Linked DNA regions of Homo sapiens. The protein of the gene in region 2 interacts with the protein of the main gene of each other region in a pairwise test. Each region holds a gene or a part of one and is shown on either strand. Other genes may lie near its edges. The genes, in order: CYLC2, MUTYH, LRSAM1 and MSANTD3.

Evidence for each region.
Region 1: the proteins of MUTYH (region 2) and CYLC2 interact in a two-hybrid assay, tested with the Homo sapiens proteins (one large-scale study listed by BioGRID and IntAct).
Region 3: the proteins of MUTYH (region 2) and LRSAM1 interact in a two-hybrid assay, tested with the Homo sapiens proteins (one large-scale study listed by IntAct).
Region 4: the proteins of MUTYH (region 2) and MSANTD3 interact in a two-hybrid assay, tested with the Homo sapiens proteins (one large-scale study listed by BioGRID and IntAct).

Annotation. Positions count from the first base shown.
Region 1 is NC_000009.12:102,993,978-102,998,213, reverse strand, and holds the start of CYLC2 (cylicin-2), read right to left. Parts: upstream 2,882-4,236; 5' UTR 2,834-2,881; coding exon 2,817-2,833; intron 1-2,816. UniProt on the Homo sapiens protein: Plays a role in the establishment of normal sperm morphology during spermatogenesis. It is required for acrosome attachment to the nuclear envelope, and proper manchette elongation and disassembly.
Region 2 is NC_000001.11:45,333,471-45,337,059, forward strand, and holds part of MUTYH (adenine DNA glycosylase), read right to left. Parts: intron 1,498-3,589; exon of another isoform or gene 1,357-1,497; intron 1,042-1,356; coding exon of another isoform or gene 1,036-1,041; coding exon 921-1,035; intron 164-920; exon of another isoform or gene 134-163; coding exon of another isoform or gene 92-133; coding exon 1-91. UniProt on the Homo sapiens protein: Involved in oxidative DNA damage repair. Initiates repair of A*oxoG to C*G by removing the inappropriately paired adenine base from the DNA backbone. Possesses both adenine and 2-OH-A DNA glycosylase activities.
Region 3 is NC_000009.12:127,479,010-127,482,509, reverse strand, and holds part of LRSAM1 (E3 ubiquitin-protein ligase LRSAM1), read right to left. Parts: intron 3,128-3,500; coding exon 3,005-3,127; intron 2,672-3,004; coding exon 2,532-2,671; intron 1,328-2,531; coding exon 1,283-1,327; intron 1-1,282.
Region 4 is NC_000009.12:100,430,098-100,433,686, reverse strand, and holds part of MSANTD3 (myb/SANT-like DNA-binding domain-containing protein 3), read right to left. Parts: intron 1-3,589.

The DNA.
Region 1 (4,236 bases), on a different chromosome or scaffold from region 2:
CTTAAATTAAATTAAAGTGTCTGGTTATATATAAGGAAACACAGTAATTAAGGCCTCATATTTACCAAGATTAAATGGCATGTAGAAGCTAAAATTCCACCTTCACTTCAAGCTTATATATTCAGTCACTTCAAAATCATTTTCAGTAACTGTGCATGTTCTGAGGTAAAGGTTTCCCATTGTCAACAATGTAGAATATAATGTATTTGAAACTTTGAAAAGAAAACTAGGATTAAGTTTTCTGAAATAAAAAGTAGAGAAGCAAGAGACATGGGGGACTTTATTTCTTAAGAGAAAAATCTATTTCTATTCTATCACCATAAAAAATTTTTTTCAGGGGTAAACCTTTAACCAAGTTTGTTTTTCTGATTATTTTTCCTTTTAGTCTGGGTTATATTTTAATCTAAATACAAAATCCACCCATCTTTCCTCTTGCCTGTAACTGTATCTCTGCTTAGATGTGTTTTAAAAATATATAGTGGATTCAAAGTCAAAGGATTTAAATGATATATCTTCCCAAGTTACATGTGAGTTGTTCATAGACCTCCTGATTGTATGCATATTGCCAGATATCTTGCTAGTAGACTAGATTTTTGGAATCTGCATCAGCTGCAGGGAAAAGAAGACCATAAAAGACATGGTAGAAAGTTTTCTAGGAACTGACTGCAGCCTGAGCTTCTCTTCTTGTATTTGCTAGAGGAGTCTCTGTGTAAAGGCAAGGTCAACTGCCCCAGGATTACTGTCTTGCTGAGGAATGGCTCTGTGTGTAGTAAGATTCTCTGTCTTTCTCTAGCATTTTCTGAAGCAGTGTTTCTTAGCATGGATTTATTTCGAACTCCTCACCCAGAGAATATTTTGCAATGTCTGAAGACATTTTCCTTGTCACAATTGTCTATGTGTATGTGCGTGTGATGATACTAGCATCTAGTTGGTAGAGACCAGGGATACTGTTAAAAATATTATAATGCATCTTACAATGGACAGAATGCTGGATCTCCCCTACCCCCAGCACCTACTAATCCTCTATTCCAACAAAAAGTTTTCTAGACTACGATGTGAGTGGTGCCAGGATTTATAAAACCTTGTCTACATCAAGGTGAATCCCTAGACCAGGATAGTAAGAGACGACTTTAGTAATGCTACTCAATAGAGAGAAAAACATAAAATATACATTAGATACGAGATTGGGAAGCTAATATTGGAATTTTAAATGTTCATATATTTAGATACCCTATCTCACACCAAATTTTTGTGATAACCTCTCCTACCTGTTTCAGAAATCTTAGTTCTATTCAACATTATAAATGGGCTGAGTTGACTAACACAACCTAAATTTGAGGCCAAGGCCAGAAGTGATGAAACTATTAAATGGTATAGTTGAGGTTTGGATAGAGCAAAGGTATTAGAGAAGGAATAAGTGGGAAAGGAAAAACTGAGTTCAAACAGAAAAATTTTCTTTATCACATACAAGTTGATAGCCATAGGCACAGAAATGTTAAGTCCAAAACTAAGGCTCTGCCATCCTTAGAAGAATTCAGTGAAAAGACAAATGGAGTCGAAAATTAATTTTCTGCATCTTAAATTTTGCGTGTTCAATGAATTGGGAGCTGTCACTTGAACTCAAAGAAATATGCTAATTTGTTATTAAGAATTTTTATGTATGCTTTTCTGGCTAATGGTGAGGCCATTTGATTATGATTTCTATCAGTTTCCTCCTACAAAAACCAGAATGTTTTGGGATTACACTAGAATAACACCATAAAAAATAGCCATAAGACCAAAAAGAGGTTTCTAACCATTGTGGTCAAGTTCTCTGAAAGCTATTTGATGCTCATGATAACAATAATACCATCGATATTTTACAGTGCTTATATATTTGAAAGTAATTAAAATACAGTGTAATTCTGCCATGTTAGGTGCCAGAACATAGATTTTTGCATAGTAGGCATCAATTTACTCAGCTTCTAAAGTAATCATGACAAATGCATTTAAACCTTTACCAAAAATTATACTTTAATGATTGTTTTATAACAAAATGGGCACCAGTATCTATGGAAAGCCTATTTTATTTTTAATATTCATGTTTTATCTTTCCTTTAACAATACTGCTAAATTAAGGCCCACCCATACTTTATATTACAAAACTCCATTCCTTCACCTTTGTTGCATGTCCTCTGTAAAAGGGTTTACAGAATTGAAACGTGCTCTTTACCTACCTTATTTTGACACAGAATAAATTAAGCATAAGTAAACTACTGTCATATAACTTCTCATGTCTGGATTATATGCTTTACATTACAAAGTACTTCCACATACTCAATATTTTGCAAGAGGGATACCACTAGTATTCAGTTGGTCACATTTGGATAGAGCTGCCCCACTTTTTACTAAAGGTTAACACTGCGATATAATGCCTCCTCTAAAATTCAGTCACACTCCTCAGTCACTATTACATACACAAAAAATATTCACAGAAATTTCCAAGGTGGTTCCCTGACTGAAAATCATGAATTATTTTATTTTATATTACTCAAAATGCAATGTGATAAAAAAATCAAGTAAGACTAGCAGTAAAAAAACAAACAAAAAAGACTTATCCAAAGCCAGGTATCTATTTTACTGAAATGCATGCACTAGCTATGTCTTAAATCAAAAAAATCTATTATGTTGCTTGAGAATCTTTGTCTGCTTAAACACATTATCTTTTGCTTATGAATGGCATCATAATAATATAATAAATATCTCTTCATACTAAAGAAGTTAAATGTAAAGCTAACGAGTATTTCAGTTATTTTAAAACATAAAATTTGACTTACAATCTTGGGAGAGACATTTTCCCCACTTATGACTTGCCAGGACTTAAGTATTGTAAGTTCAAACTGGTGATGTTGAAAGGTGACATCATAAAGAAGCCAAGAGCACTTGGAATTAAAGGGGTAAAACAAAAGGAGTCACTTGTGTTTTTATGTTCTCTAAAATTCTAAGATTAATATTTACTTTCACTTATTACTGACTAAATCTAGCTAGGAGTTTTAAAAGTAATCAATTGATTTTACACTTTAATAAAATATTTGTTTTATTTTTTTCATGTAATTGTAATTTATTGACTGATATGGAAAAAAGGTAAGTCTAAACATTTATCTGTGAGGATCAGCTGTAATCCTAAATTCCCTTTCATTCCTGTAACTTTTGTTAAATCAATGCATAACTTTACATGTCTTTCTCTCATCTTAAACGTATTGTTTTCTCATACATAGAATATTTTAAACAAAGCTATATGCTTTTTAAACTTATAAATATATGAGTTAGTACATTTTTATTAAACTCATAATCTTACCCCACTAATAAATGAATACTAGTACTATATAGAGAGGCATTTAAACATGTTGCTCTTATTTAGCTCTTTTTAAAATATCTTAGCTATTTTTTGTCTTAAGAAATAATTTTATTAAATATAAGCTTCTATAAGGGGTAAACTACAGAAATATTAGTAGTTTGACTCAAAGTTTCTAGCTGATCTTACACAATGATAAATTATAGAGGCATTGGAGCTGGGATGGGAGCCTTTCCATAATTTAGATTTCTGTGATCTGATTACTTCACTATCTGACTTAATGAGAATATCTACTGAAGTTTTCCTGAAAAGTGATAGTTTAATAAGTAAAGTATAATGTCTAATTCTATAATATTTTGTTGAGCATTTTATAGTCTATAGTGGCTTTTGAAAATATTAATCTCTAATGCATTGACTCTATCATCATACATTAAAATCTAAATAATGACTGGGCAACAGGCAATACTTGCCTTCTGCATTATCATCTCTTTAATTAATCTCTTATTGTCATTCTTAATTAAATGTGTATGATCTAGTAATATCTTAGCCAATGATATTTTTATAATGAGCATGTGTCAGTCTTCTATTGCTACATAGCAAATTATTACAAATTGAAGACATAAAACAATACTCAATTTTTATCTCATAATTTTATAATTCAAAAGCTTAGGCAGGTTTAACTAGGTCCTCTGCTTAGGGTCTCACAAGACTGAAATCAAATTGTCAGCTGAACTGTGTCTTACCTGGAGACTCAAAGAAAGAATCAGTGCCTAAGCACATTTCAGCTGGTGGAATTTAAGTCCTTGTGGCAGTAATTCTGATATCTCTGTTTTCTTCCTTGCTGTCAGCTATGAGCTGCTTTCTGTGCTTAGAAACTGCCTAAGTTCCTTCTCAAATACATC
Region 2 (3,589 bases):
CGGAAGGCTGTGACTTCAGCTACGTCTCTGAATAGATGGTATGAGGAGACAGAGGCCTGCAATACCACCTCTTCCGGCTGCCTGGCCAGGCCTGCTGGGGCCCCAGGACACTCAGCAATCATCCCTGCACAGGCTGTGCATCAGGGTCTTGGGACACAGCAGCCTGTGGCAGTATGCTCCCACTTAGGGCTTCCCCCAACTAACCCCCTTAAGCTTTGGAGCTGGAGTCAGACCAGAGTTATGTAATTGTGTGTAGCTGTGGCTAAGTTTCTGGCCTTAATTTTCTCAGGGTGGTACTACTGGCTTGTCTCTGAGCCATAATGAAAACCTAATAGTTTTAGCCAGCTAGAATGTATACTGGTGCAGGACCTTCCTATTCACAAAACACTTTCAGGCTCATAAACTCATTTGGTCCCATGAAAGCCACATGAGGGAGGAAATGCTGAACTACTGCTCCATTTTACTGGTAAGAAAGCAGCCATTCAGAGCAATTGTCCCAATGTCACACAGCAATACAGTCAGAATTACACCCTCAGTGAGTCTCTTTTGTTTTGAGACAAGAGTCTGGCTCTGTTGCCCAGACTGAAATGCAGTTGCATTATCTTGACTCAGTGCAACTTCTGCCTTCCAGGCTCAAGCGATCCTGTCACCTCAGCTTCCCGAGTAGCTGGGACTACAGACGCTCACCACCACGCGAGCATAGAGAGGGGATTTCGCCATGTTACCCAAGCTGGTCTCAAACTCCTGGGCTCAAGGGATCCACCTGCCTCGGCCTCCCAAAGTGCTGGGATTACAGGTGTGAGCCACCGCACCTGGCCCTTAGTAAGTCTCTTAATGTCTTGATACGTATCACAATCCCTTCCCAGCCTGAATCTGCCTTTCATGGCCAATGAGCCTTGGGCCACAACCTAGTTCCTTACCATCACAGGCAGAAGGCTTGGCCTGACTGTTGTTCTTAGCATGCTTCTGCCTCCCTTCCTGGCTGGCTGCCTGCTTCCTGTGACCACTTCCCACGGCTGCTCGTGGCTTCCTCATGATGGCCTGAAACAAAAAGACCCAGCCAAAGCAGTCAGTCACAATGAGGCCAAATTTTGAGGCCTTCCAAGGGTGATAGCTATCTCCCTCTCATCCACCATTCACATGGGGTCCAGCTTCTCTCAAGCACTCTCAAGATGCTCACGGGTTTACTCTTGGCTGGCTGCAGCACTGAGATACAACTAGTATAGCTGAGCAAGTGGCCTCAAGGGGGCCGGCGTTACAGCCCTGGAGACATGCAAAGACTGTGAGGCCAGGGCTGGGATGGGTCAAGGATGAAAGCCTCCTGTTTGGGAGCATTTGTGTATCTCTGATGCTTACTGTGACTGTGTGTGTGGATAGGGGTTGTTTAGGTGTGTCTGGGAGAATGGGGGTAGGCGGTTTCTCTGCCTCTTAGAGATGTAGCATGGTTACACTGAAACAGCCTGTAGTAGTCATTAAGTCCAAAACCTTCATTTTATCCTAGAAGAAACCAAGGATCAGAGGGACAAAAGATCTGTCTGAGAACAGATGGCAAATCAGTGGGAGAACAGAGATTAGCTATTTTTATTCCTAATCTAGTAAACCATAGGTGGCTGACCATCAACAATGAGAAAATGTGCCTGGTTGATTTTCACTGCTCCCTAACTGTTATAATGGCCGCCTTTTCTCTAACAGCTAAAATTAGTTGATATTTTGTGAGTGCCTACTCTATGTCAGACCCCATGAAGAGCTTTACCGGATCTCTCAATCTCCTGGTGACTCTATGAGGTATGTACTAGTATCACCTCCACCTTAGTTATAAGGAAATTGAGGTTTATGGAGATTAAGCGACTTGTTCTTTCAAATCCACGACCAGCATTCTTATACTGTGATAAAATGCAGTCCCTGCTAAGCCTCTGTATCAAACTCTCCCCCCAAACCTTTGACTTTACCACCTCATTTTCATCAAAAGAGCTTGCCTCCTCCTTCAGAAAAAAAAAAACCAACTTCAAATCTACCTCCATTTGCACTGTCTTACCCTCCTCCTCTTCAGGGTCCTGCTCCTCCAATCCCGTCTAACTGTTGGAACTCAGAAACTAATACCCCAGGCCAGGCACGGTGGCTCATGCCTGTAATCCCAACACTGCGGGAGGCTAAGGCAGGCAGATCACTTGAGGCCAGGAGTTCGAGACCAGCCTGGCCAACATGGCGAAACCCCATCTCTACTAAAAATCCAAAAAAATTAGCCAGACGTGCTCGCTTGAACCCAGGAGGCAGAGCTTGCAGTGAGCTGAGATCATGCCACTGCACAGCCTGGGCAACAAAGACAGAGCAAGACTCTGTCTCAAAAAAAAAGAAAAGAAAAGAAACCAATACCCCAAAATATGGCCCTCTGACATGCTGAACTCAAGAAGCCGCAAGGTCTCTCTGATCCTTCCACCCCAGACTCTCCCAAAGCCAGGATAAAGTTGTTCTCTGGAACTCTTTATCTGCCTAAAGTCCAAACTCACTAAAAAGAATACTTGTTTTTTCTTCCCCTCCCAATAAGACTAACATGTAACCACACCTGAACAAACCCTTTCACAGGTATTGTGTACCTCAGGATCACTCAAATTCCAAAGAGAACTATTAACAAGTCAACCTCTGTCCCCATTCCATTCTCTCTAGTAATCCTTTATTGCCCTTCAACAGAATCTCCTTCTGGCCAAAGTTCGGTTTATTTAAAAACAAATAGAGCTGGACATGCTGGCTCAGGCCTGTAATCCCAGCACTTTGGGAGGCCAAGGCAGGAGGATTACTTGAGCCCAGGAGTTCGAGATTAGGCTTGCAACATAGCAAGACCCCGTCTCTACAAAAACAGAAAAACAGAATTTCTCTTCTACCCCTTGTCAGGCCTCTGAGCCCAAGCTAAGCCATCATATCCTCAGTAACCTGCACTTATACATCCAGATGGCCTGAAGCAACTGAAGATCTACAAAAGAAGTGAAAATAGCCTTAACTGATCACATTCCACCACTGTGATTTGTTTCTGCCCCACGCTAACTGATCAATGTACTTGGTAATCTCCCCCCCACCCTTAAGAAGGTTCTTTATAATCTCCCCACCCTTGAGAATGTACTTTGTGAGATCCACCCCCTGCCCCCAAAACATTGCTCTTAACTCCAATGCCTATCCCAAAACCTATAAGAACTAATGATAATTCCACCACCCTTTGCTGACTCCTTTTTTTCAGACTCAGCCTGTCTGCACCCAGGTGAAATAAACAGCCTTGTTGCTCAGACAAAGCCTGTTTGGTGGTCTCTTCACATGGACACACGTGAGACACCCCTCCCATAATCTGTTTTGCCAGATGGTATATAAACTCACGAACTCTGTAGGGAGATGGGTAATCACTTTATGGTTCTCCCAATGTGCATGTTAATAAATTTGTATGCCTTTTCTCCAGTTAACCTGCCTTTTGTGAGCTGATTTTTCAGCAGATCTTCAGAGGGCAAAGGGAAAGATTTTCCCCTTGGCTCGTAACACAATCAAATCCCACCCTCCTTCCCTTCATAGCCAAACTTCCTTCACCAAACCTGCTTACTTCCACATT
Region 3 (3,500 bases), on a different chromosome or scaffold from region 2:
TTTTTGGGAAGGTAAGTTGGCACCTAGCAAAATGTCCTTTAAATATTTCCTTCACAAATAGTCACATGGCCGGGTGCGGTGGCTCACACCTGTAATCCCAGCACTTTGGGAGCCTGAGGCAGGCGGATGACTTGAGGTCAGGAGTTTGAGACCAGCCTGGCCAACATGGTGAAACTCCATCTCTACTAAAAATACAAAAATCAGCCGGACCTGGTGGTATGCGCCTATAATCCCAGCTACTCGGGATGCTGAGGCAGGAGAATCGCCTGAACCTGGGAGGTGGAGGTTGCAGTGAGCCGAGATCGTGCCACTGCACTCCAGCCTGGGTGACAGAGTGAGACTCCGTCTCAAAAAAAAAAAAAAAAAAAAGATATACTAAAAATTCTGCTATAAATATAGCCTGTCACTTTTTCCATTAGCAATATGTTATGTTTTCCCTTAATGAGAAATATTATTCAATAAGACATTTAATGGCTGCAGGTTATTCCTCCATACATAATTTATGTAACTAAATAATTTTTCTTTCCAGAAATTTAGATTTTTTTTCTGAATTTCTTTTTTTTTTTAGCTGGAACCATAGGCGCCTGCCACCACTCCTGGCTAAGTTTTGATTTTTAGTAGAGACAGCGTTTTGCCATGTTGGCCAGGATGGTCTCAAACTCCTGACCTCAAGTGATCTGCCCACCTCGGCCTCCCAAAGTGCTGGGATTACAGATGTGAGCCACTGCGCCTGGCCTGAACTTTTTATACTAGGAATATAGTTGGACATTATATATCTAGCCTTATTCATGTCTCTGAATGTTTTTCAGGAGTGTACGTATGTTTTAATGAACTTGAAGACAATGATTCTTTGTAATTAAATATCGTCTAAGGAGGTGAATCTCCTTATAGCTTTAGGGAAATGTCCTGGCATAATCCTCTGGAGAATCACAAGACATTCTCCCCTCAAAGCTGCTCTCCTTGGCCGGGAGCAGTGGCTCACGCCTGCAATCCCAGTACTTTGTGAGGCCGAGGCGGGCAGATCATGAGGTCAGGAGATCGAAACCATCCTGGTTAACACGGTGAAACCCCGTCTCTACTAAAATACAAAAAATTAGCTGGTGGTGGTATGCGCCTATAGTCCCAGCTACTCGGGAGGCTGAGGCAGGGGAATTGCTTGGACCTGGGCGGCGGGGGTTGCACTGAGCCGAGATTGTGCCACTGCACTCCAGCCTGGCGACAGTGCAGGACTCCGTCTCAAAAAAAAAAAAAAAATGCTGCCCTCCCCTGGAAGAACACTTACCTTTCATTTTCCAGCGATTTCAAAATCTCGGAGCTTTTCTTTTGTCTGTGGAGAAAATCATAAAAGGTCCTGGCAGTCACCAGCAGGCCTGTTTCCTGTCTCACTGCGTTAGCTGTGCAGAGGGGCTTAGGAAATGGGCTGGGGGCACCTTGGCTCCACCACCTTGAAGCTCTGGGTTCTTAGCCAGTTACTGAAACCACTCAAGTCCCAGGTTTCCTCACCTATGAAATTAGAAGAATAAAAAAACCCAGCCAGACACAGTGGCTCACATCTGTAATCCCAGCACTTTGGGAGGCTGAAGTGGATAGATCACTTGAGGTCAGGAGTTCGAGACCAGCCTGGTCAACATGGAGAAACCTTATCTCTACAAAAATTAGCCAGGCGTGGTGGCCCAAGCCTGTAGTCCCAGCTCCTTGGGAGGCTGAGGCAAGAGAATTGCTTGAACCTGGGAGAAGGAGGTTGCAGTGAGCCGAGAGCACACCACTGCACTCCAGCCTCAGTGACACAGCGAGACTCTGTCTCAAACAAAACAAAATGAAAACAACCCAGCTTCTTGGTGCATTTGTAAAGACTTAATGAAGAAATAGATGTAACAAGCTTGGCACATAAGAAGCATCCAACAAATGACTGGTTTCCTGAACTCATGCAGGTACTTTTGAAACTGACAGGTGAGGGAGGAACGAGTGATTCAGGGTTAGAAAAAAGAGGCCTGGAAGTGGCAGGGCATATGGCTGGAGCCTGTTTCTGGAATCATCCTGCAATGGGCCCCCTCACTAGACTTCTCAGGCTTTTCTGGCGCCATGTCTCCCCAGCCCCATCAAGATCTGCTCTTACTAGCTCGTACCTTGCACAGGGTTTGTTAAGGCAAATCTCACTACAGGTGAACAGCTGACCTCAGTGCAACGGGTTACGCAGAACCCAAAATACTGGAGCAGGATGTGATCCCAACTATCTTGTCAAACCCACTCACTTTATAGATGGGAAGCTTGGGGCCCAGTGGGGAAACATTTGCCCGAGGCCACAGGTCCAATCTGGTAGCAGTCTCATGCTAAGAAACCAGACTTTGTAATGACTGGGTCAGATTCTTTTCTCTCTACGCTGGTGCCAGTTGAAGCACCCAGACTGGATCCTGACAAGGGAAGCCCGGGGCAGGGGCAGAGGCAGTGAGGGAGAAACACACTCCTCCCGGCTCCTCAGGGGACTGCACGGGGAAGGACTCTGGGGCTGGGGCCGAGGAGCAGAGCCCAACCTCTGATTGTCCTGCAGCAGCTTCTGGATCCGGCTGGAAATGTTCTGTTCCGTCTGCTTCAGCTGCTCCTGCAGCCGCTGCCGCTCTGCGTTGAGGTGGCGCTGGTGCTCACTCAGGCCCTGCTCCAGCCGGGACTGCTCCTGCAGCCGGAGGTAGGGGTCCTGAGCCCCTGGGACCCCCTCAGACGCCGTGAGGGGTACTGACTGGGGTTAGGAGGCTGGCTTTCCCACCCTGCCTTGCCAATCCTTTTTGTGTGACCTCCGGCCAGCTCCTCCCAGTAGGCTACAGTGTCCATCTGCACACGGGGAGGCTGGGCTGGGTGATCTGTAAGGGCCCTCCCAGGTGCTGGGGGACAGAAGGAAGTGACAGCTTCATCCCACTGCCTTTCCACATCCGAGGGACCTTGGCCCAAGCCAGGAGGCCACTGGCTGGGGGATGCAGCCAGGCTGGACCCTAGCAGGCGGCTCACAAACCTCCTTGACCGTCTGAAGGATCTCATCCTTCTGGCTGCTGCTCTGCTGAAGGAGCTGGGTGTGCTCCCGCTGCCCCAGTTCCAGGCGCCGTTCAAACTCGAGTTTCTCCAGCATCTTCTGTTCCTGCAAGACACAGATCCTGGTGACTGTCAGCACAGGCCCTGGGGGAGTTAGGACACAGAAGTCGGGAGAATCCACCCCTCAACACTGACAGGGCAGGCTCCAGGTCTTCATGCTGAGCAACCCCCACTCCCCTCCAGGGCCCAACTGTAAGAAAACAAGCTGTTCACAGGAAGAGGCTAGTGGTCTAGAGCCCGGTGCTGGGCTCAACCCCTCTGAGCCTCAGTCTCTGCACCTGTCCCATGGATGCTCTACCACCCACCTGAGGCATGTGAGGATGCAGCAGACTGCGTGTAAGAGGAAGGCATTACTGTGACCTCTAATTCTGAGCTGGGAAGAAGTCATTTTCTCAAATATTTTATGAGTTGAGTTGAGA
Region 4 (3,589 bases), on a different chromosome or scaffold from region 2:
ACAAAGGACCTTGGCCAGGTGTGGTGATCACCATCTGTAATCACAGAACTTTGGGCCTAAGGCAGGAGGATTGCTTGAGCCCAGGGGTTCAAGACCAGCCTAGGCAACAATGGGAGAACTCCATTGCTATAAAAATTAAAATTAAAAGTACTAGCCAGGCAAGGTGGCATGTGCCTATAGCCCCAGCTACTAGGGTGGCTAAGACAGGAGAATCCCTTGAGCCCAGGAGGTTGAGGTTGCAGTGAGATATGATCATGCCACTGCATGCCAGCCAGGGTGACAGAGCAAGACCCTGTCTCCAAGAAAAAAAAGGTAGTATAATATAGAGGTTAAGGACATGGGCTTGGACCCATGGCCTCAAAGCCCAACCCTACCACTGCTTCTGAGAGTGGAGCTTTAGAAAAAGAAAAAATATAAATAAATTTAAAGAAGGACCTCAATCTAATCCTCTTACTTTACAGTTGAGGAAACTGAGGCTCAGAGCAAAACAGGGCTTCCCAAGGCCCTAGTAACAGAGAAGAGTCTGAAATCAAGGCTTCATCATTTGCTTTCCAACCCCTCTCCCACTTCAGAACCCCCTCACCATCAAGATGCCCTTTTTGCTAGGTACTCTCAAGCCTCCCCGACTGTACCATTTGAAAACTCCAGGGCACTGCTCTCAACTCTGTCATTCATTTTGTGACATTTGTCTTGGCACGTCTTCTTTACTTGCTGTCAATTCCTCGTCTCTAAATTATAAAGCTCAAGGGGGTATTCTCTAAAGTCCTATCCAGTACTGGTCATCCATGTTAGCACTGCCATTAAAATGGTTTTTCTGCAATCTAATTTCCACAGTTCACTGCCAAAGACACATAGTTGGTATTTTCTGATTATTTATGAGACTGGTGGAGCTACTGGCCAATGAAAGAGAGCATTACAGCAGAATGAAGTGATCTCAGCACTTTAGATGACCTTGTTATTTTGCTTAAGGCCTTTAAACAGGTTTAACTGTGCAAGTTAAGCAGTTCCAGGTGAAATGGCAAAAGCAGGTGATCTGATCTGTTCACTATGGCTCCTTGAAGAGTGCCTGGTGTACATCAAGCACTCAATAAATATTTGTGGAATTACCTGCCATAACCAACCTGCTTGCCATTTGCATTTTTTAACTGATTATTGCTAGATGTTTTATTATTTTAAATTTCTCCTCTTACAAAGGATTTATCATAATATAATCGTTTCCTTCTTGCAAACATCATTACAGTTCAAAGAAGGTAGAAATGGCAATGTTTTAAGAGCCTCACAACCACTATGATGCCTTCAGGATTTCATTTTATCCAGAGGTGAGAGTAATTGGACAGTACTCTTACCTGCCTGCACATGTACATACCTGTGTGCCCAGGATGGCCACTCACCCAAGCTCTCTCTGCCTCTCTACCTTCTTTCTTTCCTTTTCGAGAGCTTTCCAGTCAAGCCTAGCACCGAACTTGCTTTCTCTAATGCATTCCCTCTCTACCACTTTTCCACCCACTCCAGGCAGCCATGTAACTTGGAAGTGTTTATTTTCATCATCTGCGCCTGAGTGTGACTGTGTGCATGCAGAACCAGCCTTGTGTTGAAAGCCAGGTCTCCCCCACTTTCCCATCCTCACAGTCCCCTCTATAAACCAGATGAGAGTTCTTAAAGTCCTAACCCCGTCCTTCCCCTTCCCCACACTCCATCTTAAACCATCCCCACCCACGGCTTCCCTGAAATGCCTTTGGAATCATTATTAAGGTATCTTCCACAGAAAGCAGTGTTGAAAAACAGAAGGTCCCCTTCTGTAGGTGTTCCCACTCCAGCCTCCTTCTCGTCTACTGAATACACTCTCCTCCACTCCCACCACCTCAGCTACAACCATCGGCTCTCAAATCTTCTCTAGGACAAGGGTACCAAGTATTTACCTCTTGCAGCACTCAGAATTACTCTGCACTGAGATCTATCCATATCCTGAAGGCTCTCCCTATCTGACGGTGAGCTCCGAGGCATGGAACTACATTTTATATCTATCTTCAGCACATAGTAGATTCACAGTAAGTGTTTGTTTTAAAAAAAAAGTTGGGAGTGGGGACGCAGGCACAGTGGCTCACACCTGTAATCCCAGCACTTTGGAAGGCAGTGGGGGAGTACTGCTTGATGCCAGAAGTTTGAGACCAGCCTGGGCAACACAGTGATACTCCATCTCTAAAAATAAAAATTAAAAAATTAGCCAGGCATGAGCATCTGTAATCCCAGCTACTTGGGAGGCTGAAGTGGGAGGACCACCTGAGCCCAGGAATCTGAGGTTGCAGTGAACAATGATTGCACCACTGCACTCCAACCTAGGTGAAAGAGTAAAACGCTGTCTCTTTAAAAAAAAAAAAAAAAAAAGGCTAGGCATGGTGGCTCACGCCTGTAATCCCAGCACTTTGGGAGGCCGAGGTGGGAGGAGCACCTGAGGTCGGGAGTTCGAGACCAGCCTGACCAACATGGAAAAACCCCGTCTCTACTAAAAATACAAAATTAGCCAGGTATCATGGTGCATGCCTGTAATCCCAGCTATTCAGGAGGCTGAGGCAGGAGAATTGCTTGAACCCGGGAGGTGGAAGTTGCGGTGAGCCGAGATTGCGCCGTTGCACTCCAGCCTGGGCAACAAGAGCAAAACTCCATCTCAAAAACAAAAAAAAAAAGAAAAAAAGAAAAAGAATAAAGTGGCAGTGATGGAAGAACCTCTCTTCCAAGCCTCAACCTCTCTCCTTAGCATCAAACACATTTCCAATTATCTATCAGCCACCTCTGTGCCCCACTATGGGTACCTCAGAAAACTCCAACTCTCCATAGCCAAAACCAAACTAATTATTCCCCATACACCAAAATCTCCTGATTTCTGATGATGTCAGCCACATCAACTTGGCTTCCCAAAGCAGAAATGTAATCTTCAATCACATGCAACTAATTAACAAGACCTATGGTACATTTTACCCAAACATCTGTTCCCTCCTCTCCCATTCTCACTGCCCATGTCTGTGGACAGAGCTAATCTCTAAAATGGTCTCCCAAACTTCCATACCCTCTTCCACACAACTACAGGGATCTTCCTAAAACACAGTGATCAAGCCACAGGCCTCCTTGTAAACCTCAGACGTCTCTCCCACTGCCTAAACGATAAAAGTCCCAACTCTTCACATGGCATTCATGGCCTTTCCGGATCTGGTCCTGATTATAGCACCCCCACCAGCCCCTCATTCTCTCCATGTATTTTCAACCTAACCAGACCAAACTCAACACGCGGCTTCCTTTGGCTGGAATCCTTTACCCCAAGGCCACCAAGGGCCCATTTTCAATCTCTCTTTTTTTTTTTTTTTTTTGACACAGAGTCTCACTCCCAAAGTGCTGGCATTACAAGCGTGAGCCACCGCGCCCGGCCCATTTTCAATCTTCAAAGCCCAACTCTCATGCAATTTTTGTTAAGCCTTCCTCAATTAATACCCAGTCTGTTATGTTTATTTTCTTTATAACGGCTTCCTTCTAAAATGGGTTTGAAGCAGCTTACAAATTACACACACACTGCAACTAGATTTTTTTTTTTTTTTTT